Linked DNA regions of Homo sapiens. The gene in region 1 interacts genetically with each later gene. Each region holds a gene or a part of one and is shown on either strand. Other genes may lie near its edges.

Region 1 (3,500 bases):
CAAAAAGGCTGCTTATGGGTACTCACTGCTAAGTACAATCCACTGCCAAGTTTGGAAGCATTACCTGCTCTCACAACCCAGGGAAAGTAGCCCTTAGTAAAATTCAGGTTTTTTCAAACCAGCCTTAACCTTACAAACAGAATTTATCATCATGATTTTTCTTTCAAATGCAGTACAGCAAACTTTAGGATCAATGTTGACATCGTATTGCGTTTAGTCCTGTTAAAATACTCTCAGTGCCAAATACACACTTCTGCCTTTTTTCTCTTTAGAGTCTAGAATTCTGTGGGGTTCCAAAAATGTATGTGCTTACAACCTTTTATATGTAACCACCTAGGGATTAAAGGGCTAAATGTGAAGGAAAGTATCTTTACAATATTCATCTTGGGAAGCTCTCATTTTGGTGAGTTCTATTAGAGAAAATAAGACACAAGCTCATTAAAAATATATATATATTCTGAGCCTGGCATCTTGGTATAAAATTCAAAACGTTTTAAATCTATTTATTAGTAAGACTAACATAGACCTAAGTGTGAAGACTAAAATATTAAAGCTTGTAGGTGATATCATGGTTGAATATGACCTTAGAGTAGATTCCTTAGGACAGAAAAACACCAACAAGAGAAACAATTGACTAAATGGACTTCATTAAAATTAAAAATTTATGTTCAACAAAAGACACTGCTAAAATAAATACAGAATTTACAGACTAAAAGAAAATATTTGCAACATGTTTATCTGAAAGGGCTTATATCCAGACTATACAAAGAATTCCTGTAGCTCCATAATAAAAAAACAGACATCCCATCCGCATAATAAAAAGAGCAAAAGACTTGAACATATACTATACAAAAGAAGATACAGGAATGGTCAATAAATAAGCAAATGAAAGAGTGCTCGACATCACTAATTATCAGTGGAGTGAAGATTTAACCACAGGGAGATACGAATTCCAGTTCTAGGTATTTTTACCTCAAGTGAAATAAAAACATTTATCCATGAAAAAACTTGTACAAGAATGTTCATAGCAGTGCTCTATTCATAAGAGTGCAAAACTGGAAACATCCCAGAATAGATAACACATTATGGTATAGTCATAGAATATACTATATTTATCAGCAGTTAAGAAGGGAACTACTTATGTATTCAACAACATGGATGAATCTTAAAAACATGGTTAAGGGCCAGGTGCGGTTGGTGCATGCCTGTAATCCAAGCACTCTGGGAGGCCAAGGCGGGTGGATCACTTCAGGTCAGGAGTTCGAGACCAGCCTGGCCAACATGGCGAAACACCGTCTCTACAAAAAAATACAAAAATTAGCCGAGGGTGGCGCACACCTGTAATCTCAGCTATTCAGGAGGCTGAGACATGGGAATCGCTTGAACCTGAGGGGTAGAGGTTGCACTGAGCCGAGATTGCATCACTGTACTCCAGCCTGGTGACAGAGCGAGACGCTGTCTCAGAGGGAAAAAAAAAAGTTAAAAAGGCAGACAGAGGAGTCTATATTGTATGATTCTATTTATATAATCTAGACTAGGCAAAATTTATCCATGATGATAGTAATCAGATTGAAGGATCAGTGGTTGCTTGGTGGAAATTGACTGAGAAGGGAAATAGTCATGTAAGAATACTGGCAAATGTCCTCTTCCCCATTACAAACGTCTGAGAAAGTTACTAGAAAACAGAATCCAATTTGCCTTCTCACCCCCAACTTTGTAATCTTGAATCCAGATCCTGATTCCACCCAACCACTCTGCTGAATGGATAGCAGCTATATTAGAGAGACAATATAGTGGGCCTACTAGTTTTAAAAAGTCATCCAAAGAATGTCATCTACAATCAGTTAAATTAGATTTTTACCCATTACTGAAGTGTGATTGAATTAGGGAAAGAGGAGAGGTGGTCAAAGGCAGCCTTCTCCAGTGGATTCCTTGTCTTCTTGAGATGGTTTTGTGAGACCTTGCCTGGAAGACCTAGGTGGATAGTTTATTTTCTAAAAGTAGTCAAGAAAGCTTGTTCAGGGCATTGAACACTGCAGGGACAAGCATACTTCTTGGAGGCCAGCCATCTCCTGCTGGATCTAAGCGGGGTGGCTTCTGCCTCCACCTCCATCTCAGCTTATTTGAGAGAATCCTAGATCCTTGGTGCAGAAGCCCAGCCAGCCTGTGAAGAAAAGTTGGTCTGGTAGTATCCTGTGAATGACGTGCGGGTTGGGTTTTTCTAAATCTCGTTTACCTGACTCCTACCTTACATTCCAGTGGTGTGACTAAGGAACTGAGCAAACGTAACCCTAGGGGACTTTGAGACAGGCTTTGGTAGTCCATGTGCACTAGAGTGAGGGGAAAGAGGCCACTCCAGAGTTGGGTACTCTACTGTTGAAGGTGAGCCTTTTGTGTCCAATTTTTCCGTGCATGTGTAAGAACAGTTGTCATGGAGATTTACTACTGACTTGTGCATGAGGACAGCTTATATCTCACCTTTTCTTATTCACCCTGTTAAATGTCAAAATGTACTAAGACTTAGGTATTTTTTCTGTGTCACCAACTACTAAATCACCCACCCATGATAGCAGGTAGTTACTGAAACTCTTGTAGCCAAACAAGTGCATAACACTGGTACACATGATGTGAGAGTGCAGATGACTCCTTAGCTTAACTGTGTAAGCTTTTAATTTCTGAGTACTTTTAGGATTGAGAAGTGGAAGACATTCTTGCTCTAGGTATCTCATGCTTCTGCACACCCAGAAGGCTGGTTGCGCCCCCACCCCACCCCCCGCCCCCTTTTTTTTTTTTTTGATAGGGTCATGCTCTGTTGCCCAGGCTGAAAGGCTGGTTATCTTCACCACAGGTCTTATGTCTCAAGGACCACGGGTCCACGTCATAGTCAGGAACCAGGCATGTGTGGGCAGAAATCACTACCACTTTCCTTTGTTGCGGGTGGGGAAATTAAGAGCAGAGATTCTTGGATTCTTAAATTCCTTCTCTATGTTTATGTCATCTAGTCTGTTTTATGCTGTTTTATGTAATTCCCTGCTTCTGGATTTCTTGAATTTTTTTCCCCTTCTCACTTGTCATAATTGGCTCTTGCTTGTGAGTCTATTTTCATTCAGCTTGGTAGCAGAAGTCTTCTTCACTATTGTTTAGATTCAGTTTTCACATGGTTTTAGTAACCCTTCATTGGGTTTAGAATCAACTTTTAACCCTTCCACCAAAAGCTCTTATTTTTTTAAAGGCTTCCCAGAAACATAGTTTCTCTCAATCTCATCAAGAAATGCTTTTAAATGCAGAAGTTAGAAAATGGTGAATAATTATGGCTGTTCCTGGAAGTCATTGTGTCCTTAGTAATTACATGTTGTAGTCTTTGGTTCTGCTTCTTTGACAGCTCCACCACACTGTAATTTAATGGAATTCACTTAGATTTAATGGAATTCAGTCCTGGTAGAAAACTGCTATTGGGTCACAGAGTTGGCAGCAAGGCTGTGAAATTGATGTGGGAATGG
Region 2 (3,500 bases), on another chromosome or scaffold:
GCCTGAGTCTCCTGGCACCTCTGCACCCACCAGGCCCAGGATGGGCTCTCCCCCAACAGCAAGGGGCCCACTCACCCACATAAGCACGCACACCTACCCCGTCAGCAGCAGCCCTCGCTGTGACGGCTCCTGGGCCAGGTTTCGGCCCCCAGTGATGGGCCAGCTCTGGGAGGGGGTGGCAGAGATGTATGCACAAGGTTAGGACGAACATCTTCTCCCTCTCACCCCGAGTATGGCACATTCTGACCTCCGGGCTTAGAACTGAAACTCTCCCCCTCCTCAAGACTCCACCCTGTAAGACCCCCCTGATCGCCGCACACACCAAGGCACTGGAGACAGGCTGGGGGCTCTGCTGCTCGCCAGCGCTCACAATGCGGGCCCACAGCTTGGCGGGGACACTGGCCACGTGGGCCGAGCAAGTGATTGCAGAGGAGTGCAGCGGGGCCAGGTATGGGGCAGGCACAGCTGGCCAGCCAGGAGTCTGCAGGTCCAGCACCACCAGCTCCTCTTCCAGCAGCACAGCCAGGGCCTGGGGGTCATCAAATTCTGTGGGACGGAGGGAGTATGGGGTGAGCACAGCCATAGGTGGCAGAGGGCACCAGGTGGGGCTGGGAAAGGGTAGGGTACGGCAGGGCACGCACCATCCTCGGGCCGTGTGCTGTGCACTGTGAAGAAGTCGATGATGCGGGAAGTGAAGTCCAGCGTCACCAATGTCTCGGCTCGAAGCACACTTACACAGTGGCGGTCACCATAGCTGGCACGGGGCATGCCACCGCTGAAGATGATAAAGTGGCCCCTATGTGCAGAGGGAGGTGTGCGAGCCATGAACCACTTGGGTCCAGAGCACATACTGCACAACCTAGGGAGAGCCCACCCTTCCAGCCCCCTAGCCAGACCCAACTCACATCGGACACCCACTCCCTCGACCTACCCAGATTCACAGTTCCGCCACAGAATCTTGTTAATGGCCTTGCAGGGAAAGGGGCCTGAGGGGTGGGACAGCGTCAGACCAGACTCACTGGTGGTTCTTAGCAATTCTGCCATTCCTGCTCTGCCCTCCACTGCTCTCTACCTTACAGCTGCCTCCTGCCTCCCCGGGAAGTCGGCGGGAGACACACTGCCCCCAGACCACCCCCTCGGGGAAGTCCCTCCTCAGCCAGTTTGGCTTGGCTCAGTGGTGCCCCCTCCCATCACCACCCTCTGGCTAAGGTGTCCCCAGCACTCACCGTAAGGTGTGGTGGCTACCGTGGGCTGCAGCGTTGGGAAGCTGCCGGCATCCACAGACCAGACAGCATAGCTGCCATCGCTGTGTGAGCTGACCACAGTGCTGCTATCACGCCCCCAGCATAGGCTCTCCAGCTGCTGCGGGCAGGCAGGGGCAGGCAGGCAGGCAGGCATGAGCCATGGTGGGCATGCACAAGGGGCCCAGGCTGAGGGGACACAGGCCTCACCTACATACCTGGTTCCCCAGGAAGATGTGGTCCACACACTGCGAGGCCTGGTTCCAGATGACCAGCAGGCCCCGGCTGTAGCCAATGAGAATCTTTGTGGGGTCCCGCAGGTGTCCCTGGAGTGACTCCACGGGGCCCAGTGCCTTCCCACAGCGGTAGTCGTCTGGCACGCTGTGGAGGAAGGCAGGTGAGCCAGCAGAACTTCCCGGGCACACAGTGGGTGCTGGGAAGCCCACCGGCCTCTTACCTGCGCAGAACCTCGCCTGGGGCAAGCGTCTGCCCCTCGAGCAGGGTCAGGGTGGTAACATCCAGGAAGAAGACACTGCTGCCCTCAGTGCCCAGGGCTGCTATGTCGCTGGCAGCCACCAGCAGGACCACTGTGACTCGGGTAAGGCTGAGCGGAGCACTGCAGGGAACAAGGGGAAGGGAGTGAGGGTACAAGCCCATCCACCTGCTCAGGTGGGGTGTGAGGGGCTGGGCCACTGCTGATAACTCATCACTGGCCCCACAGCACTCACCAGGGCCTACTTACAGAGCCACCCCAGGAAGACATGCATCATCATCAGCCCGCTCAATTATTCATCAGGATGTCAGCAGGGAGATGGATAAAAATAGGGTCCCTAGGTCTTGCAGACTGGGCTCCCAGCTCCTCCCACCCACCAGGAGAGGACAGCAGGAACCAGGGCACTGCCCAAGCCAGGACCAGGAGCTCCCCGCTGAGCCCCTCCTAGGAATCCCGCTGCCAGCGCTCAGACATCTCCTGACTTCGCAGGAGGGCCCCAGATACCCCCATCTGCAGAAGCTGGGAGGCATCAGGAATCCATCCCTGGGTTGGTACTCCCCTTTTCCAGCTATTTCAGGCAGGGCTGGGGAGAGAGATGCCCCACACTCTCACTCAGCTGGGGCATGCTGCCAGCGCCTTACCAAGCACAGCCCATGGGACCCTCCTTGCCCTCAACCCTGCCTATGCACAGAAAGGCCTGTCTCCCACCCACAACTGAAGAGGCCAGGGGACCCTTCCTGTTACTAACTGGCTTAGGCCCTGCCCCAAACCCCTAGACACCCCCATCATTGCAGTAAGTGTAGTGCCAGGCCTCAGGTCCTAGAAGTTTGGCATATAATGCATGTACCTCCTGCTGCTCACAATGTTAATTACCTGCTCACGTCGGACTCAACCCAAACCTCCCATTTAACCTGAAAAGTTCAGAGTATACCTCAGTAAAGCAGGGTCCAACAGCTGCAGCCTGGGACCCAGGCCCAGCTCAAGGCATCCCGCCCTGAACCGCTGCCCATCTCCATGCTGCCTTTGCACAGCAGGTTCCCACAGCCTCCCCCAGATCCTCCCTGCCCGGTGGCTGGCCCCAGCCAAGTTCTCCAGTACCTGGCACCATCAAAGCCGGGCCGGCTGGGCAGCTGGAAACTGAGTGCTTCTTCCAGGTGGGCACAGCCATTATGGTGGACAATCTCCCAGAGATGCAGACTGCTGTCATCAAGCAGGGACAGGAGGCGGCCCTGGTGTGTGAGCAGAGATGAAAACTAGGCTGGCCTAGGGGGATGAGTAGATATGGGGGCCACAGGGAGCTGGCTAGTGGGAAGCAGAGGCTCACCTGGCCGGTCAAGAAGTGCATCTGTGTGACAGTGGCTGCATCCCGGTGCAGGCCTGTGAACTCCACGCCAGGTGCACCATAGCTGAGGGTGGCAGGTCAAGGTGGAAATAGGCATAGACCAGCAAACCACAGTGAGGAAGACACCCAAGGCTCCTCCTTGACCCGGACTATTCCAGTGGGCCCCGGCATGGGCCTGACCATCCAGGAGTCCTCCCTGAAGAACGGAGGCCCCCTCCCTAAAGCTCCCACTCTGCACCCCTACAGTATCCCCAAGATCAGTGTGCAGGCTCCACTCACTCCTGCAAGTCAGGTGCTGCTATAGGACCTTCACTTCCCGTAAATTGGGCCAGTGACTCCCACTTTACAGGACTGTTGCAGATCAAGTGAGAATAAACACACCCAGCAGGCTTGGCCTCAGCCTGGTGAGAGGATGGGGCTCCGC
Region 3 (3,500 bases), on another chromosome or scaffold:
TATGCATTATCAAATAATCAACTGGTTTTAAAAAGATTTATATATAAAATAAAAAATCAAGTAAAGTTCAAATGATATCTTTTCAAAAAATTTTCTTAAAACTATATAAATTAAGGAAAGTCAAAAGGCTTAAAAACAAAAGGTATAAAATCATCCAGAAATTTTGTCACAATGTAACGTTTTAAGCACCATATTAATATCACCACTAAAAATAATGCTACCACCCTCCCCTGAAATTCATTAATTCAAGAATTCACAGTTCCCCTTTCCTTCTGCCAGAGCATATCGTCATCCAGAGTATGGCATGGGTCTGAGGTTATTAAGCAAACACACTTATCACCTCCTACCTCATCTGCTGCCTTCATTATTGCATTAGCAATCTTTGGATCAAGACCATAATCCTGGTTTACTTCAGCGGCCGCTCGCTTCAAGATGCCAAAAGCTTTAATAACTGGGGTCTAAAATTAATCAGAAAAATATTTCAAATTTACAATTTTACTTAAGCATGGAAGTTTATTATTTTGGCAGATGCAAAAGCTATACATAAAACAATAACAATAAAACAGTAACACTATAGCTCTAAAATGTTTCGGTTATAGAGAAAGATTATAGACAGGAATTCATGAACCAAGAATCAACATTATCATAGATCTATTTGTTTAAGGAACCAAATAAAAACAAATACATTGACTCTTCATATATATATGTGTGTACGTCTCCCACATACATATACACACATATTCACACGAATACAATCCTATGCACAAATACACACAATAAATTATATGTGTTTATTTCATATACTATAAATAAAAACAAATTTAGTACTCAATCTTTTCACCAGCAAGAACCATTATTTTCTCTTACTGGATCCCACGTTACATTATAATTGTTTCCTTCCCCTCTTAAAAAAATAAATAAATAAGGGATATATTTAACTGCCAATCAGTATGAGACTACCAGTGACTGACTGGGTTATCATTTCACCCCAAGGCCAAAAAGCAATCTATTCTACTTAGCTAGTAAAGCCTTAATACTCAGTAACTCCCTGGACATTTCTCTCAGAAGAATTATTTTTTTAAACCCAAGATTCTCCAGACCTAAAGGTGACAGCTTCCGATATATATAAAACCCCATTAATGCAGATATTTTCATTGTCTATCCCAAATCACCTCACCAAGCTTGAAAAGGATAAACTGAAATGAAAACCTAGTTTTTATAAGACAAGTGAATTGTGAGTTCTTGTCAAAATTAATAATACAGATTGTTGTATAGATCCCACACCAGGTTTGAATGGGGAAAGAGTAGAAGGGAGAAAGGGAAGAAAGGAAGAGAATGATGAATGTATAAGAGAGAACCTGCTATCTCTGGAATCAAAGTAGAAAAAGCCAAGAAAAGTAAGAAATAAGACACATTAAAAACATAAACCTGGACCAGAGTAAGTATAAGCTGAGGGTCAAATAGAAAAGGAAAACCAGAAAATTTGAAATTTCAATTTTAAGTAACTAAAATTAAAACATTAGAAACGTTTGACTCAAACGAAATGAGGACAGATGGCACACAGGATTAGAAACTTAAAAACTTTAAACACAAAAACAAATGGGAATTTAAATCTCCACAGTAACAAACACTGAGGTAGTGGGCTGAACCACTACCAAGGGCAAAGGTGAATGCCAATCAACGCTGGCCATCTGAATGGAGTGAATGACCCCCAGTGTTTATGGACCATAAAAATAAAAAAGGGTCATTCACAGCAGAAAGAGGTTCAACGAACACCATAAAATGGCAAAATGTATCACTAGAGAGAAAAGACAGGTCACTTTATTCTTAATTTATTCACATTAGATGTTCATAATCTTTTTAGCTTTGTTTTCCTCTGGACCTCAAGTAAAAAGGGTTGAGTTTAATCATACTACTCAGTTTAGAGTACATACAGACTGTTTTACACATAATAAAGTTCAGAAAGTATGACAAAATCGAGACCCCAGGTGTCTGCCTTTCACAGGTGTGCAATCCCAATGGCTGTGCTGTCTCTGGAGCAGCAGCAGCAGGAACCATGCCCCACCAGAACCACAAAACATGCTGGTGACACAGATCAATGAAAACGGCAGCCATGCTCACTCCCACCAACACTAGCTGGGGCTGACCTCCTCCTTAGTCTCTGGAGTTGAATAATATGAGATTATTTTAGGATTGGTCACTACCCTTTTTCACCTAACCACGTAGTCAAACTATGTTTACCTCACCACCAAGAAGGCTGTAGATGGCAATGACAAAGATATTCTCATCAAAGATTCAGCTGCCTGTTGTAAAGTTCTATATACCTGTCAAGAGGCAGTCTTGAAGGCTTAGGAATGACTTAAAATTATTGAAAATAAAAGCATATTTATAAGATAAGTGTTAAACAATATCTCACAGGATGAAGCCTATCTACTTCTAGGCTTACTAGCCTATCCTGCATTGACTATTTTTCATACTCCGGTTGGGCTCCCGTAGAATATGTTATGCATTTCTCAATTCTTTTCACACTTTAACATCTCTGAAATCAAGATGTATCTTGTAATCAATGGTAAGTCACAACCTTAATTGGTAGCATTTTTCTTTCTTAGTGGTGCCTATTGGTGCATCTTCTAATTAATGGCATCTTAAATTTAATTGAATGTGGTAGAAAGTTTTCTCATCATTTAATCATTCATATGGAATTGAATAAATACTTATATATTATCTATTATATGTCAGACATGGTTAAGAGTAATACTTTGATGTGTTTGTGTACTATACACTTTTTAGGAAACTGAAACCAAAATACAAAGTGTAATTTTAAAAAATCTCAGTTTTAAATTAGTGGGGGAAAAAAGAATGAGTATTGAAATAAAAATATTTACAAACTGTAGAACCCTAGTAAAAATCTGTAAATACCCAGCAAGAGTGAAAAGACAATCATTTAGTTCTGCCAAATAAAAATCCAAAATAACTATTCACAATAGCAAAGACATGAAATCAACCCAAATGTCCATCAATAAAGGATAAAGAAAAAGTTGTATATATCCACCATGGAATATTATGCAACCATAAAAAAGAATGAGATCATGTCCTTTGCAGAGATATGGATGGAGCTAGAAGCTGTGACCCTCAGCATACTAACAGAGGAACAGAAAACCAAACCCGCATGTTCTCACTTGTAAGTGGGAGCTGAACAATGAGAACATATGGACACAAGGAGGGGAACAAAGCACACAGGGGCCTGTGGGCGGAGGGGGAGCAGCAGAAAAAATAGCTAATGCCGGGTTTTAATATCTAGGTGATGGGTTGAGAGGTGCAGCAAACCACCATGGCACACATTTACCTATGCAACAAAACTGCATATCCTGCATGTGTATCCCGGAACTTAAAATTAAATTAATTTTTTTTTTTTTGAGACGGAGTCTCACTCTGTCGCCAGGCTGGAGTGCAGTGGTGCGATCTCAGCTCACTGCAACCTCCGCCTCCCGGGTTCAAGC
Region 4 (3,500 bases), on another chromosome or scaffold:
GTATCACAAATGACAAAATTAATATTCCATTCCCTCAGCCTTGTTTTGGTTGTGGCAAATGTAAAATGGCCATGAACTACGTATCTTACAGTATTTGATATCCAGTGTTAGTCTTTATAAACAGAATAGTAAGATTTGATTGTTTCTTTTTCACTCCTACACTGGCTGGGAGTTTAAGTAAAATTGTTTCTGGCATTATAGTTCTGCATGAAATTCTTTCTTTTTTTCATCAATTTGCTAAAATAAAATAATTAAAAATGTTTCAGAAGTAGCCAAAAATAGTGCTTAGGCTAATAGTAGGCAATATATACCAATGTATAGACTTAGATACTGGTTTCTTCCTCCTTTTCAACTTTTCAGATTATCCCCTTTTCCTCCTCCTTTTTCCCCATCAGTAACATTTAGGCTTGTCACTGGCCCCTGTGAGCACCACTAACACAAACATAATTCAAAAAGGTAAAGAGGTTGTAAGTTCTATCTTTTGACTTCTGGTTTGTGCGGGATTGGCTTTTTTCTTTCTTTTTTTTTTTTCTTTTTGTGTAAAACAAGGTCTTGCTTTGTCTCCCAGGCTGGAGTCCAGTGGTGCAATTATGGCTGGTGCGATCATGGCTCACTGCAGCTGCAACCTCCCAGGCCCAAGCAGTCCTCTCACCTCAGCCTCCCCAGCTCCAGCTACTGCTAATTTTAAAATTTTTGTAGAGTCAGTGGGTGGAGGAGTCTCCTTATGTTGCCCAGGCTGGTCTCAAACTCCTGGGATAAAGTGATTCTCCTGCCTCAGCCTCCCACAGCTTTGGAATTACAGGCATGAGCCACCATACCAGGTTGAGATTGGCTTTCAAGGGCTCCAGAAAGCTATAGGGAGAATGACTTTAACTAAATATAAGAAGAAAATTTATAATAACTAGAACTAACTGGGCTTCCTTGAAACATAGTGGGTTCTCCAGCATTGAAGATATTCAGACAAAAGCTGGATAGATGCCACTTGTTGAGATTGTTCTAGAGAGGACTCGGCCAGTGGATAGGGAGTAAAAATAGACTTCTAAATTCCTTTCAATTTTAAGATTCTTTTACTTGATCTGTGATCTCCGGTTTCTCCATTAGTCCTCTGCAGCATCCCTTTGTGGTAATGTAATATTATAGAAGTAAATTGTTGTGGGGCAACTGCAAGTGATTTCAGGAAGTAACTTCAGGTAAAGGTTGTTACAGAACACATTTCTTTGTCTTGGAATTCATGCATCTCCAAACGATAAGGCCATAGTCTTTTTTTTTTTTTTTTTTTTTTTTTTTTGAGACAGGGTCTCGCTCTGTCACCAGGCTGGAGTGCAGTGGCGTGATCTTGGCTCAATGCAACCTCCTCCTCCCAGGCTCAAGCCATCCTCCCACCCCAGCCTCCTGAGTAGCTGGGACCACAGGCACACACCACCACACCCGGCTGTTTTTTTTGTATTTTTAGTAGCGATGGGGGAAACCCATCGCCTTGTTGCACAGGCTGGTCATGAATTCCTGAGCTCAAGCCATTAGTTATTTTTCCTGATCCTCTCCCTCCACCCTCCTATAGGCCCCAGTGTGTGTTGTCCCCACTATGTGTCTATGTGTTCTCATCATTTAGCTCCCACTTAGAAGTGAGAACATGTGGTATTTGGTTTTCTGTTCCTACAGTAGTTTGCTAAGGATATAGTCTTATGAAGCTTATTGGCAGTTTCCCAACCCCTGGCTTTTATTAAGATGATGATATCTGGCCAGGCATGGTGGCTTACGCCCATAATCCCAGTGCTTTGGGAGGCCGAGGAGGGCAGATTGCTTTGAGCTAAGGAGTTCAAGACCAGCCTGGGCAACATGATGAAACCCCATCTCTACAAAAAATACCAAAAAGAAAAAAAAAAAAAAAAAGATGGTGCTATCTGCTAGCATATCCAATGACATTTTCTCAAGTGTTGCTCTACTGCTAATCAGCTTGGGCAAGTGAACCAAACCTCAAAGGTCATTTGGGGAAGCCATCTGAAGGGCTGACATGGCAGCGACTTCACTCTCCACATTTAGCCACTCATTTGATCCAAAATATTCGGTAATTTTCCAACTTTTTTTTCCCTTTCTTTTTTTTTTATATGGAGTTTCACTCTTGTCGTCCAGGCTGGAGTGCAGTGGCACAATCTTGGCTCACTGCACCTCTGCCTCCCGGGTTCAAGTGATTCTTCTGCCTCAACCTCCCAAGTAGCTGGGATTACAGGCGCCTGCCACCACATCCAGCTAATTTTTTGTATTTTTAGTAGAGATGGAGTTTCGCCGTGTTGGGCAGGCTGGTCTCCAACTCCTGACCTCAGGTGATCTGCCCGCCTTGATCTCCCAAAGTGCTGGGATTACAGGCGTGAGCCACTGCACCTGGCCTTTTTTTTCCTTTCTTAATTACCAAGCACAGTCACCATCTTTGCTTCAAGGTTCTGTTATTCTATACCTCTGAGATACTAGGAACTAGCCTGGCATGGTGGCACGTACCTGTAATCCTAGCTACACAGGAGGCTGAGGCAGGAGGATCACTTGAACCCAGGAAGCCAAGGCTGCAGTGAGCCATGATAGTGCCACTGTACTCCAGCCTGAGTGACAGAGATCCTGTCCCAAAAAAAAATACAGTAGTTCTCTGGTCCTTTCATGAGGTGGGTTTTGTTCCTCTGACATTAAATTACATTCCATAGGACAAAACAGCTCACTATTTGGCCCAGAGAAAGGGTAACCCTACTTTTCAAGTCATCCCACATTATTTTGACATCCTTAAGAGAATAGCATTATCTCTCATCCTTTGGCCTCTGGTTAGAGATTTAAAACCTCTGCTTTGCCACCATGTGACTATACTTGAATTTCCTTTAGCTCAAACTTAGTATCATCTGTCTCATCATACATACACACACACAGTATTTTAGAAATCGAATTAAGCTTGGCTTATTTACTTTATAGGTAAATCACCTTCTGAGCCTCTGATTCCCAAGAGGGTTGGTCTTATTCACATATCCCAAGTCATCTCAGAAGTTGATGGTAACAGGATGACCTTGAGCCAAGAAGGAGCACAAGATTCCTTCCCTCTTCAGCAGAAGATCTTGGTTTGCTCTTTGATGCTCTTGATCAGGCAGTTGAAAATCAAAGAGGTCACTCTGGGGAAGGTAAGTTGGGATGGAGCAGATGGAACGGAGGTAGAGATCAGAATCTGCTTTGCAGAGCAGGTATTTTCCAAAAGGCCTATGATACTTCAGCTGATAATAAATTTAAAATGGATTTTAACAGTAAGAATTAATACTGGTACTATATAAAAGGCACCTATTTCCCTTGGATTGTGGTTGAGAGTTTATCATTAATCCTTTCCCTATCCTCCCCTTCATTTCTGCATCTCTCTAGGAAATATATAAAGCCCCTTTCCTACATTACTGTATAGGTTTTCGGGAATATCTACAGAAGCCTGTTCAAAGATTTTATTGAAAAGAGGAAGAAATAGGGTATTCAGATAAGTTTTT
Region 5 (3,259 bases), on another chromosome or scaffold:
ACTGGTGAGTGTGTCATGTGTTTACTTAAAAGGGACATAAAATCTGAGCACACTTTCCTCTCTGAGTGGTGGTCAGCCCCATGTCCAGTGGTGTTAGTGACGAGCTTTGGCACCATGCAGCTGACAAAGAGTGTCTTTGAGGTCATCAGTTAAACATTGTCTCTGATTCTTCTTTCTGATGACTGATAACAGTACTTAATGTTAGTTTAATCTCATTTAACTCAGGAGGTGAATAAATTTCTTTTGGGTCCAAAATCAGCCAAATTCAGAGAAGTGTTTTTTAATCATGTCTTTTTTTTGTTTGTTTGAGACAGTTTTGCTCTTATTGCCCAGTCTGGAGTTCAGTGGCTCCATCTTGGCTCACTGCAACCTCTGCCTCCCAGGTTCAAACAATTCTCCTGCCTCAGCCTCCCGAGTAGCTGGGATTACAGGTGCACGCCCAGCTAATTTTTTGTGTTTTTAGTAGAGATGGGGTTTCACCATGTTGGGCAGGCTGGTCTCAAACTCCTGACCTCAAGTGATTCACCCACCGCACCCGGCCGAATTTTTCTTTTTTTCTTTTCTTTTTTTTTTTTTTTTTTGAGACAGGGTCTTGCTCTGTCACCCAGGCTGGAGTGCAGTGGTGCGATCTTGGCCCACTGCAACCTCCACCTTCCAGGTTCAAGTGATTCTCCTGCCTCAGGCTCCCAAGTAGCTGGGACTACAGGCATGTGCCACCACACTCGGCTAATTTTGTATTTTTAGTAAAGACAGGGTTTCACCATGTTGGCCAGGCTGGTGTTGAACTCCTGACCTCAGGTGATCTGCCTGCCTCAGCCTCCTAAAGTGCTGGGATTACAGGCGTGAGCCACCGCACCTGGCCAAACTTTTCAAATCCAACTATGATGGTATCCTTCATCTTCATGTCTGACGATAAGCTGTTGGCATAGACAGTTAAGCCCACAGGGAACAAGAAGTGCATCGATTGCCAGGAAGAGAGTGAAATGTTTTTGTTCCTCCTGTGCTAGGTCGGGACTTCTCTCATGATGACACTTTGGATGTTCCAACGCAAGTTGAGCTGCTCATCAAACAAGCGACATCCCATGAAAACCTCTGCCAGTGCTATATTGGCTGGTGAGTGGGGCTCTCAAAGTGACTTTGTTAAAATAAGCAATCAGGTCCCAAGCCTAGGCCCCAAAGCCAGAGTAGCAAAAAGAGATTTGGTGAGGTATCTGTAAAGGGCAGTTAGAGCTCAGATCTCTTTAAAAATTCATATTTACTGCATGTGCCCATTGTTATAAAAAAAGAAACTGAGAAATATGGATGCATACTTGGAAGGCAAACACTAAAATTAAAATTACATTAAGATAAGTGGTTCAGGAGAATAGGCAAGGCTTGTTTGTTTGTGAGGGGTTCCTTTTGGGTTTTGCTGTCAGTCCAGTGCAGAGATACAGGAAGGGCGAAGGAAAGAAAAAGCTAGAGCAGTGACAGAGAGAAGGAGATAAAAAGACAGATTTATGATCTGGGAGTCTAACCTCAAGGGCCACTCTGGGGTGTGCTTTGATTAATTGCCCAAGGCATGCTTGAAGGCAGAAACTTGAGAGAGCGGGCGCTGGGGAAGTGTCCTTGCGGGACCTCGGTGGGCATTAGCCTTGACTGGAAATGATGAGTGTGTCCCATGCAATTAGCTGTGGGAGAGCTCAGGGAATACCCTAGGGTTGTCAGACCTTGGCCTTTTCATTTTCAAGTTATCTGTGTAAACCTTTGAAGAAGCTCAAATTATTAAAATATTCCTTTTCTTTCTGCCTTCTTAGGTGCCCTTTCTGGTAACTGGAGGCCCAGATGTGCCCATCACGTTTTTTCTGAGGCTTTTGTACTTTAGTAAATGCTTCCACTAAACTGAAACCATGGTGAGAAAGTTTGACTTTGTTAAATATTTTGAAATGTAAATGAAAAGAACTACTGTATATTAAAAGTTGGTTTGAACCAACTTTCTAGCTGCTGTTGAAGAATATATTGTCAGAAACACAAGGCTTGATTTGGTTCCCAGGACAGTGAAACATAGTAATACCACGTAAATCAAGCCATTCATTTTGGGGAACAGAAGATCCATAACTTTAGAAATACGGGTTTTGACTTAACTCACAAGAGAACTCATCATAAGTACTTGCTGATGGAAGAATGACCTAGTTGCTCCTCTCAACATGGGTACAGCAAACTCAGCACAGCCAAGAAGCCTCAGGTCGTGGAGAACATGGATTAGGATCCTAGACTGTAAAGACACAGAAGATGCTGACCTCACCCCTGCCACCTATCCCAAGACCTCACTGGTCTGTGGACAGCAGCAGAAATGTTTGCAAGATAGGCCAAAATGAGTACAAAAGGTCTGTCTTCCATCAGACCCAGTGATGCTGCGACTCACACGCTTCAATTCAAGACCTGACCGCTAGTAGGGAGGTTTATTCAGATCGCTGGCAGCCTCGGCTGAGCAGATGCACAGAGGGGATCACTGTGCAGTGGGACCACCCTCACTGGCCTTCTGCAGCAGGGTTCTGGGATGTTTTCAGTGGTCAAAATACTCTGTTTAGAGCAAGGGCTCAGAAAACAGAAATACTGTCATGGAGGTGCTGAACACAGGGAAGGTCTGGTACATATTGGAAATTATGAGCAGAACAAATACTCAACTAAATGCACAAAGTATAAAGTGTAGCCATGTCTAGACACCATGTTGTATCAGAATAATTTTTGTGCCAATAAATGACATCAGAATTTTAAACATATGTATATGAGTGGCGTTTTAGTCATAATTTTGATCAGTTCAAAAAGGAAGCATTTACTCTCTTCAGCACTCAGCCTTCAGTAAACACTCTGTAGTAGGGATGACAGAGGACGTAAGGGTGTACGTGACATGGTCCCTTTCCTCAGACTGTTCCCAGGCCAGACAGGTGGAGACAGCATGCCACTGAAGTGAACAGAACTTACCCCGGCCAAGTGCTGAGAAGAGGCATGTATGGGCCACAGGTAGGAGCGTGTATTCCACCGGGTGAGCCTGGAAAGCCCCATAGAAAGGGGGACATTTGGCATGGGTCTTAAAGAGGGGTGGGAGTCTGTCAGATGAACCAAGGGGGGGGCATTCTCAGCAGAAAAGGAAGTGTGAGGCACTGCTGTAAAAGCAAGGTATCCATAGCAGTGGCAAGTATCAGTTGGACCATTTGAAATCACAGGTACGTGGACCATTTTTAATATACAAAACTGGCATTTTCTTATGGCTGCACCTCAT
Region 6 (3,500 bases), on another chromosome or scaffold:
AATATGAATTTAAAAAAAAATTACACTAGAAGAAATACCTATTGAAAGTCTTAAAAAAAATCAAGATGGGTTCTCTACCAAATAATCTTTCCTTTGATCTAATGGAATAATGAATGAAATTTAAAGATCTCCCTAACTTTGAACAATTCTTGCTTTCTTAGAATGAATTCCCACTTCTTGGTCATGTTGTTCTCAAAGAAGTAATTTGATTTCACTTACTTTTTCCCCCAAGTAATTTTTGCATCAATATACATGAATAAGACTGAGTTGCAGTTTTTTGTTTTTATTTTTCAGGTTGTGAAATCAAGATTATCTTGGCTTTGCAAAACAAACTGGAAATTTCTTGTTCTCCCTGCTCTGAAACAGCTTCAACAGTATAATAATCATAGGTCCCTTAAAGAAAAAGTCACCTATGGAACTGTCTGACCTCAGTACTCTTTGGGGTCAGTTCTATGATACTTTAAAAAATTTCTTCATGTTGTTGTACATTCTGTATTATATCTCTTCTTGATTCCATTTTGGTAATTTGTAATATCCTAGACAATTAGCCATTTTATTTAGGTTTTCAAATTTATTAGCAGAAATATACAGTCTTTACATTTCTTCCACATTTATTTATTTATTTATTTTTTGAGACAGAGTTTCGCTCTTGTTGCCCAGGCTGGACTGCAATAGCACGATCTCGGCTCACTGCAACCTCTGCCTCCTGGGTTCAAGCGATTCTCCTGCCTCAGCCTCCCGTTGGGATTACAGGCACCCACCACCTCACCCAGCTAATTTTTTGTATTTTTAGTAGAGACAGGGTTTCACCACGTTGGCCAGGCTGGTCTCGAACTCCTGACCTCAGGTAATCCACCCATCTTGGCCTCCCAAAGTGCTGGGATTACAGGTGTGAGCCACCGCGCCTGGCCTTCTTCCACATTTTGTGTCGAAGTTTAACCCCTTTCTTTTCCCATTATTAGATAGTTGGCAGTTTATCTAATTGGACTTGTCAAATAATTAGCTCTTAGATTTACTTTAAAAAAATTTTTTGTTTTTTTGAGACAGAGACTCACTCTGTTGCCCAGGCTGGAGTAGAGTGGCGTGGTCTCAGCTCACTGCAGCCTCCGCCTCCCAGGTTCACGCCATTCTCCTGCCTCAGCCTCCTGGGTAGCTGGAATTACAGGCACGCGCCACCACACCCAGCTAATTTTTGTATTTTTAGTAGAGATGAGGTTTCACCATGTTGGTCAGGCTGGTCTCGAACTCCTGATCTCGTGATCTGCCCGCCTTGGCCTCCCAAAATGCTGGGATTACAGGCGTGAACCAATGCACTTGGCCTGATTTACTTTTAAATTATAATGTACAGTTTTGAAAGTGTAAATTTCTTTCTGTTATAGTTTCCTTCTTCCTGTTTGGCTAAGGTTTTGTGTTGTTGCTCTTTTTCTAAGTTTGAATACTTTATTCATTTATTTTCTGGAATAGGTGTTTTGAGATGTAAAATTTTTTCTGTGTGGCTATTATCTGCATACCTTTTCCAAGTTAAAATTGTCTTCAGCTCGACTGTCCTCTGAGTTGTCTGTATTCTTCTCATCATCACCTTTATCTGCATTTGCAAATACAGAGGCCACGCGAACCACAGGCAGAGGCACATCCCGAGGGACAAACCTGACTGAGCTGATGGGCATGGTCCACAGTTTAATTTTCTTAAAAGATTTGGTTTTGGCAGAATACCGTGATTCACAGACAAAAACATCCTCATCTCGGAAGTTTTCTGGGCATAACTTAAAGTATTCCTGGGGGGTGGGGAGGGCATAAGAATAAAACTAGTTAGGTGAATTTTCTGAAAATCAATCAAAAAAAAAAAAAAAAAAAGCAAATAACCAACCAACCAAACAAAAGCTGAACTGATTACAGACTTTCTGGCAGTTAACAAAAAATAATAAATGACCAGAGATTTAGAAGTATTTCTTTGGCTACGGAATGGACTTATTATATACACACCCTTTAAATTATAAAAACAAATAATTCCATTTAGCTTACAATTGCTCTTTGAAAACATATGAACATTTCATATAGCTATAATGTTCCTTAAAGCTTTGAAGAGGGCTTGTGTGTGTGTATCAGACAGACACACAAAAGCACACATTATTACCTAAAAAACAAACTGAAAATTTGTAATGATTATCCTTAAAAAAACATCATACTTAAAAATTAGCCTGGCAATATTAAAAACTTAACCTAACTGCATTATAGCCAAATAGTGTAAGCAGCAAGTGGTCTTTCACAACGAAGTTCAGGTTAATTTCTTCCCAAATCTTTTCATATAGCTATATAGACACGGCTTAAAAAATAGCTTAAAACAGAGTTCCTAATTTTGTAAACATCGATTATTTTCTGTGTTTTAAAATTTTATTCCTAGGGAATGAGTGAGACTTTGGGATTTAATGAGTTTCTTACCTTGACAAACATGACCACACACTTGCCTAGAATTTTACTAACTGGAACTTTGTTGTAATAGTCACTCTTAAAAACTTCTTTTTCTAGAAATTTTCGTGTAGCCAGGTGGAATGTTTCATTTGGTCGGTAAAACCAACAGCCATACAACCATTTTTCACCTCAAAAATGGGGGGTGGGGGAAGGGGAAGAGAAAGAGAATCATTGTTAACAGAAATCACTTTTTTTTTTTTTTTTTTTTAAAGAGACTGGGTCTCACTACGTTGCCCAGGCTGGACTTGAATTCCTGGGCCAAAGTGGTCCTCCAACCTCAGCCTCCTGAGTAGCTGGGACTACAAGTATAAGTCACTGTGTCCAGCTCAGAAATCACACATTCTTTGCAAAATTAGGAAATACACCATCAATCCACTCTGCCATGACATGAACCTAGCACTGTGCTTATTTTTACAGCTACAGTTTAATATAATTATCCACAGGAGAAATAATACTCAAAAATAATAAAGTGTAATGAGGCCTAAAAAATGCATGCTACTTTTCCCCCCTCATATATATATATATACACCCTCAACCTCTTGGGCTCAAGTGATCCTCCTGCCTCAGCCTCTCAAGTTGCTGGGACCACAGCAAGTGCAATCACACCCTGCTGATTTTCTTATTTTTTCTAGAGAAGGGGTCTTGCCATGTTGCCCAGGCTCTTCTTCATATTAAAAGCCATATAAAGTACATAATGAGGAGGACAGGTGATGAGACCTGCTCCACTCTGCTCTGGTTAGTACATACCTAGAGTTGTGCACTTTAGTAAGGGGACAGATATGCTACTGAAGGACATATTTAGCTCTCTGGTGAAGGAATACAAAAGTATTTCATGTGATAGGCAGCTCAAAGAACTGGATTGCCTGGATCACATTTCCACCAACTTCTGGCTTCATTAATTTCTATGCATACTCCATGTCTCAATTTAAAGGCAACTGTTCTAGAAAGCCTTTTTGAAAACAAATGCTAAGCCAAGGCATGTCATTCTATAATAATTTCTTTTTTGATCATAATCTTCCTTACTGGAGTAG
Region 7 (3,500 bases), on another chromosome or scaffold:
AAACATCAATCAGCTACAGCCAAGTTTCAAACTTGATGTATATTAAATACTCAGATATTATACTTGTAATATGCACGTATCTTGGATTTACTTCAAAAGCTATTCCTGATCACACATATGTAACAAGAGGCTTCCAAATTGAGGGTGGGCGCCTGGGAGGGGTGTTTCTGTTGCTAAGGGCATACCTCAGTGTTTCCTGCAGTGGGATGCTCAATGCGCCTCAGCAGTGCCATCACTCTTTTCTGAAGTGCTGCTCTTCCTAAGCAAATACAACAGCAAATCAAGTTACTGCACTTAGAGCCCTGCCTGCCAATGGAGAACCTGATAAGCTCCACCCAAAAGGAGTAGGAAGAGCAGAGCAAATGCTTCAAATGATAAAGCCAAAAACTTCCTTTCACTAACCTCACAGGAAAGGTACTTATCTTGGACTCTACAATGTCCACAGAATAAAATAGCTATTCCCACCTACAATTTACTCAAAACATACGCCAATGTTTGTAAAACTTCACTATCTACAACTTAGGCAGAGTAAATTACATAATCATAACTGATAGTAACATCTACTGCCAGTTATTTTTAAAATGTATAGCATATTAACAACTCAGTGGAAGACTAACAATTTATTTCAAATGCTTTTTATTTTCATCTTACTTTGTTCAGAAAAGGATTTCAAGTAAGCTACTTGAATTTCCCCTGTAAACTTACAAAGTAGTGACCTTAAATACATTCTCAAAATCAGATGCCATGTGCTTTGAGGCAGACTGAGTAAAAAAAACCACTATTCACATTTACCTGTTGACATCATATTGCTGACAGAGGCAAACTCCATGAATGTGTTATAGTTGGGCAAGAGGTTATGCACTGACACTTCATCCACCCCACACCGGATATCTGCTTCCTCACAGAGGTGGCGGAAACAGGACATGGCAACCAGAACAGCTTCAGTGTCAGGGTTCCACAGAAACATGTACAGGGCCACTTCTAGTTTGGTCTGGGCTTGTCGGCAAATCGGGGGGGTTCCGCTGCATCCTGCTGCACTATCCTGAGAGTCAAGGGTGGAAGACATATATTTGCAACTTGGGTAATTTTATGTATAAAATCTAACAATGCAATAAACTGTGTGTGTGTGTGTGTGTGTGTGTGTGTGTGTGTGTGTGTCTCCGCATACAATAACTCACAAGAGCTTTTTCCTTTAATCATTATAGGAATTTTTCAAACCCCAAAATATCTTGTCCAAATGAGAAATGAGATTATCTGGACCAACATAATGCTACCATCTGTTCAATTTCAAATCAAATAGATATTATCCTATTCCAGATTCCAGAAATGTAAACTGATTCTAACATGGACAGGTAAACACCATAACGTAAATCTACTGCAGTAACAATATAATGTACCTCCCAGTCAATTAGAAATGACAAAAAAAGAGGAAGTAACAGGAAATTCTATCTACTTGCTATAGGGAAGTAATAAAATAAGTACACTGCAGCACTCATTGAAACAAGGGCATAAACAAGAACTAAATATTGCTGTAGAAGATACATTTGATTCTGAATTACTTATTCTCCAAACACGAAATGGAGAAAATAATTGATAAAATAAATGCAAATTCTACAAGTAAAACAGACATTAGTAAATATCATACTGCTTAGGTGTTTCTTCCTTAACAAGGTTGCATTAAAAATTAGGAATGAAAAAAGTTTTGGTTTGGAAAATAAACTCTTCTGTAATGATGTGATATTTTCACTTGAAATATGATTTATATTTAAAAGAAATTATACACACAAACACAAATCACAGAAACACTTATCTTTAACATGAAGCAAAATACTTTGTTTTTATCCCTGTAAATCTGTACCTTTGTTAGCCGGTACGAATTCTATACTTCTGTGGTATGAATGGGTTTTTTATGGAGTGGAGGTTTATAATAATTATAATTATCAGATATAGCTTGTAAGTGTCAAGTGCTATTTACACATCCTTTTATTTAACCCTCTTTAACAACTCTGGGGCAGGAACTATTACTGTCCCCATTTTAAAGTTGAGGAACTGAGGAACAAGGATGTTAAGAACTTGCCCAAAGTTCCACAAAGAGCAGTAATAGAACTAGATTCTAAGCAGTTTTTCACTATTACACTATATTACCTAGATGAAATTTACCAAATTTCATTCAGAAAACAAACAGAGCACATAAAATGATACAGAAAAAGTACAGAAGAAGCTGACCATAGAGGAGTTCCCTTTTCCCTTCCGGAGAGAGGCTCCAGGAGTACGTAGTAATTCTTCATGATCCATGGACATTTGACTGGTATTTCCACTAGAAGGAATATCACATCCTACCCCGTAAAAAAGGAGAAAGTGACAGGAACTTCTATCTGCCTGCTAGAAAAAAATAAATAAATAAGCTTTACTGAAGCACTGACAACCAAGAGGAATAAACACTTATTTGAGTTGTCTTCCTGTTTGAGACTCTCCTAAAAAACCTCTCCTCTCAATCTCTATGCCCCAACTTGAAGGAGATTCACTAGAAACCCATTAGAACAAACAAGGTTTACTTAATTCTTTAAAATTTCTTTCAGTTTCCCATTCTCTAAATCATCAGAAACAGTAGATTCTACAAATATAAATTAAGTCTGACATAAACATGAGTAAAACATCAACAATATAAATCTACTGTATGAAAACTATAATTTGATCTCAATGACAAAGATTTTTTTTCCATAAGATTTTATACTGTGCCATGTTGGGATAACCAGAAATTGGCTCTTGAGATTAAGTTCTTCTGGACCAGTAATTAACTCTGGTATGTATATACACCAAGTATGTCACAAGAGTGACTATGCCTACCAGGGCACTATGAATTCATTACTGGATTCCTCATACTCACATTCTGGAGATTATACCATAGGCGAGGCCATGAAAGTCTGAAGTCTAATCTCTTTCTGTATCTTTGGAATAATGCCAAATTCCACTACATTAACATATCAAATAAGTCACATGTGAATAAACCCACTTCACCATTAGTCTATTTCTAAAGAGACAATTTATTAATAACAAGCTGTAAATACTGAAAAGGATATGAGTTTCATACATTTAAGGTCTTTCACAGCTATGCTTCTAGTACCAGATAAAAACTCATTAAATCAAGTACTCCGAAAACTAGGCCATAACAGAATTCCTAAATTGATTAATTACAGAAACTATATGTTAAAAGAAATTTAAGGCTCTTCTCTATCTTCCACAACCTCACCATGTTTCAATAGTTCAGAATCAAAACATTTCACTCCACCCCAATGAAAAAGTCTCCTGATATTTTCAAGAGGTGAAACCCTTATTGGAGGAATCGAAATAAATCTAGATTGAGGACCCTCAACTGTTTCCCTTTTGCTTCTTGATAGATAATTCTCTGGACTAGTCTAGCCATGAGATCTAGGTCTTTACGATTTCTCAGAGCTATGATTCTAGAACTGGACAAAAACCCATTAAATCAAGTACTCCCA

The links.
Region 2: changes in TOP1 (region 1) and LLGL1 are lethal when combined (synthetic lethality), as found in Homo sapiens cells (one large-scale study listed by BioGRID).
Region 3: changes in TOP1 (region 1) and FH are lethal when combined (synthetic lethality), as found in Homo sapiens cells (one large-scale study listed by BioGRID).
Region 4: changes in TOP1 (region 1) and CDC6 are lethal when combined (synthetic lethality), as found in Homo sapiens cells (one large-scale study listed by BioGRID).
Region 5: changes in TOP1 (region 1) and MTOR together harm fitness more than expected from each alone (negative genetic interaction), as found in Homo sapiens cells (one large-scale study listed by BioGRID).
Region 6: changes in TOP1 (region 1) and PBRM1 together harm fitness more than expected from each alone (negative genetic interaction), as found in Homo sapiens cells (one large-scale study listed by BioGRID).
Region 7: changes in TOP1 (region 1) and NF1 are lethal when combined (synthetic lethality), as found in Homo sapiens cells (one large-scale study listed by BioGRID).

What each region holds. Positions count from the first base shown.
Region 1 is NC_000020.11:41,108,822-41,112,321, forward strand, and holds part of TOP1 (DNA topoisomerase 1), read left to right. Parts: intron 1-3,500. UniProt on the Homo sapiens protein: Releases the supercoiling and torsional tension of DNA introduced during the DNA replication and transcription by transiently cleaving and rejoining one strand of the DNA duplex.
Region 2 is NC_000017.11:18,232,135-18,235,634, reverse strand, and holds part of LLGL1 (lethal(2) giant larvae protein homolog 1), read right to left. Parts: intron 3,141-3,500; coding exon 3,059-3,140; intron 2,964-3,058; coding exon 2,833-2,963; intron 1,858-2,832; coding exon 1,699-1,857; intron 1,623-1,698; coding exon 1,460-1,622; intron 1,363-1,459; coding exon 1,227-1,362; intron 987-1,226; coding exon 932-986; intron 797-931; coding exon 642-796; intron 547-641; coding exon 323-546; intron 166-322; coding exon 98-165; intron 1-97. UniProt on the Homo sapiens protein: Cortical cytoskeleton protein found in a complex involved in maintaining cell polarity and epithelial integrity. Involved in the regulation of mitotic spindle orientation, proliferation, differentiation and tissue organization of neuroepithelial cells.
Region 3 is NC_000001.11:241,513,256-241,516,755, forward strand, and holds part of FH (fumarate hydratase, mitochondrial), read right to left. Parts: intron 459-3,500; coding exon 348-458; intron 1-347. UniProt on the Homo sapiens protein: Catalyzes the reversible stereospecific interconversion of fumarate to L-malate. Experiments in other species have demonstrated that specific isoforms of this protein act in defined pathways and favor one direction over the other.
Region 4 is NC_000017.11:40,297,879-40,301,378, forward strand, and holds part of CDC6 (cell division control protein 6 homolog), read left to right. Parts: intron 1-2,949; coding exon 2,950-3,152; intron 3,153-3,500. UniProt on the Homo sapiens protein: Involved in the initiation of DNA replication. Also participates in checkpoint controls that ensure DNA replication is completed before mitosis is initiated.
Region 5 is NC_000001.11:11,106,035-11,109,293, reverse strand, and holds the end of MTOR (serine/threonine-protein kinase mTOR), read left to right. Parts: coding exon 1-4; intron 5-1,007; coding exon 1,008-1,113; intron 1,114-1,793; coding exon 1,794-1,809; 3' UTR 1,810-2,759; downstream 2,760-3,259. UniProt on the Homo sapiens protein: Serine/threonine protein kinase which is a central regulator of cellular metabolism, growth and survival in response to hormones, growth factors, nutrients, energy and stress signals.
Region 6 is NC_000003.12:52,584,914-52,588,413, forward strand, and holds part of PBRM1 (protein polybromo-1), read right to left. Parts: intron 2,598-3,500; coding exon 2,440-2,597; intron 1,776-2,439; coding exon 1,512-1,775; coding exon of another isoform or gene 1,500-1,511; exon of another isoform or gene 268-1,499; intron 1-267. UniProt on the Homo sapiens protein: Involved in transcriptional activation and repression of select genes by chromatin remodeling (alteration of DNA-nucleosome topology). Required for the stability of the SWI/SNF chromatin remodeling complex SWI/SNF-B (PBAF).
Region 7 is NC_000017.11:31,223,977-31,227,476, reverse strand, and holds part of NF1 (neurofibromin), read right to left. Parts: intron 2,383-3,500; coding exon 2,227-2,382; intron 1,043-2,226; coding exon 793-1,042; intron 260-792; coding exon 186-259; intron 1-185. UniProt on the Homo sapiens protein: Stimulates the GTPase activity of Ras. NF1 shows greater affinity for Ras GAP, but lower specific activity. May be a regulator of Ras activity.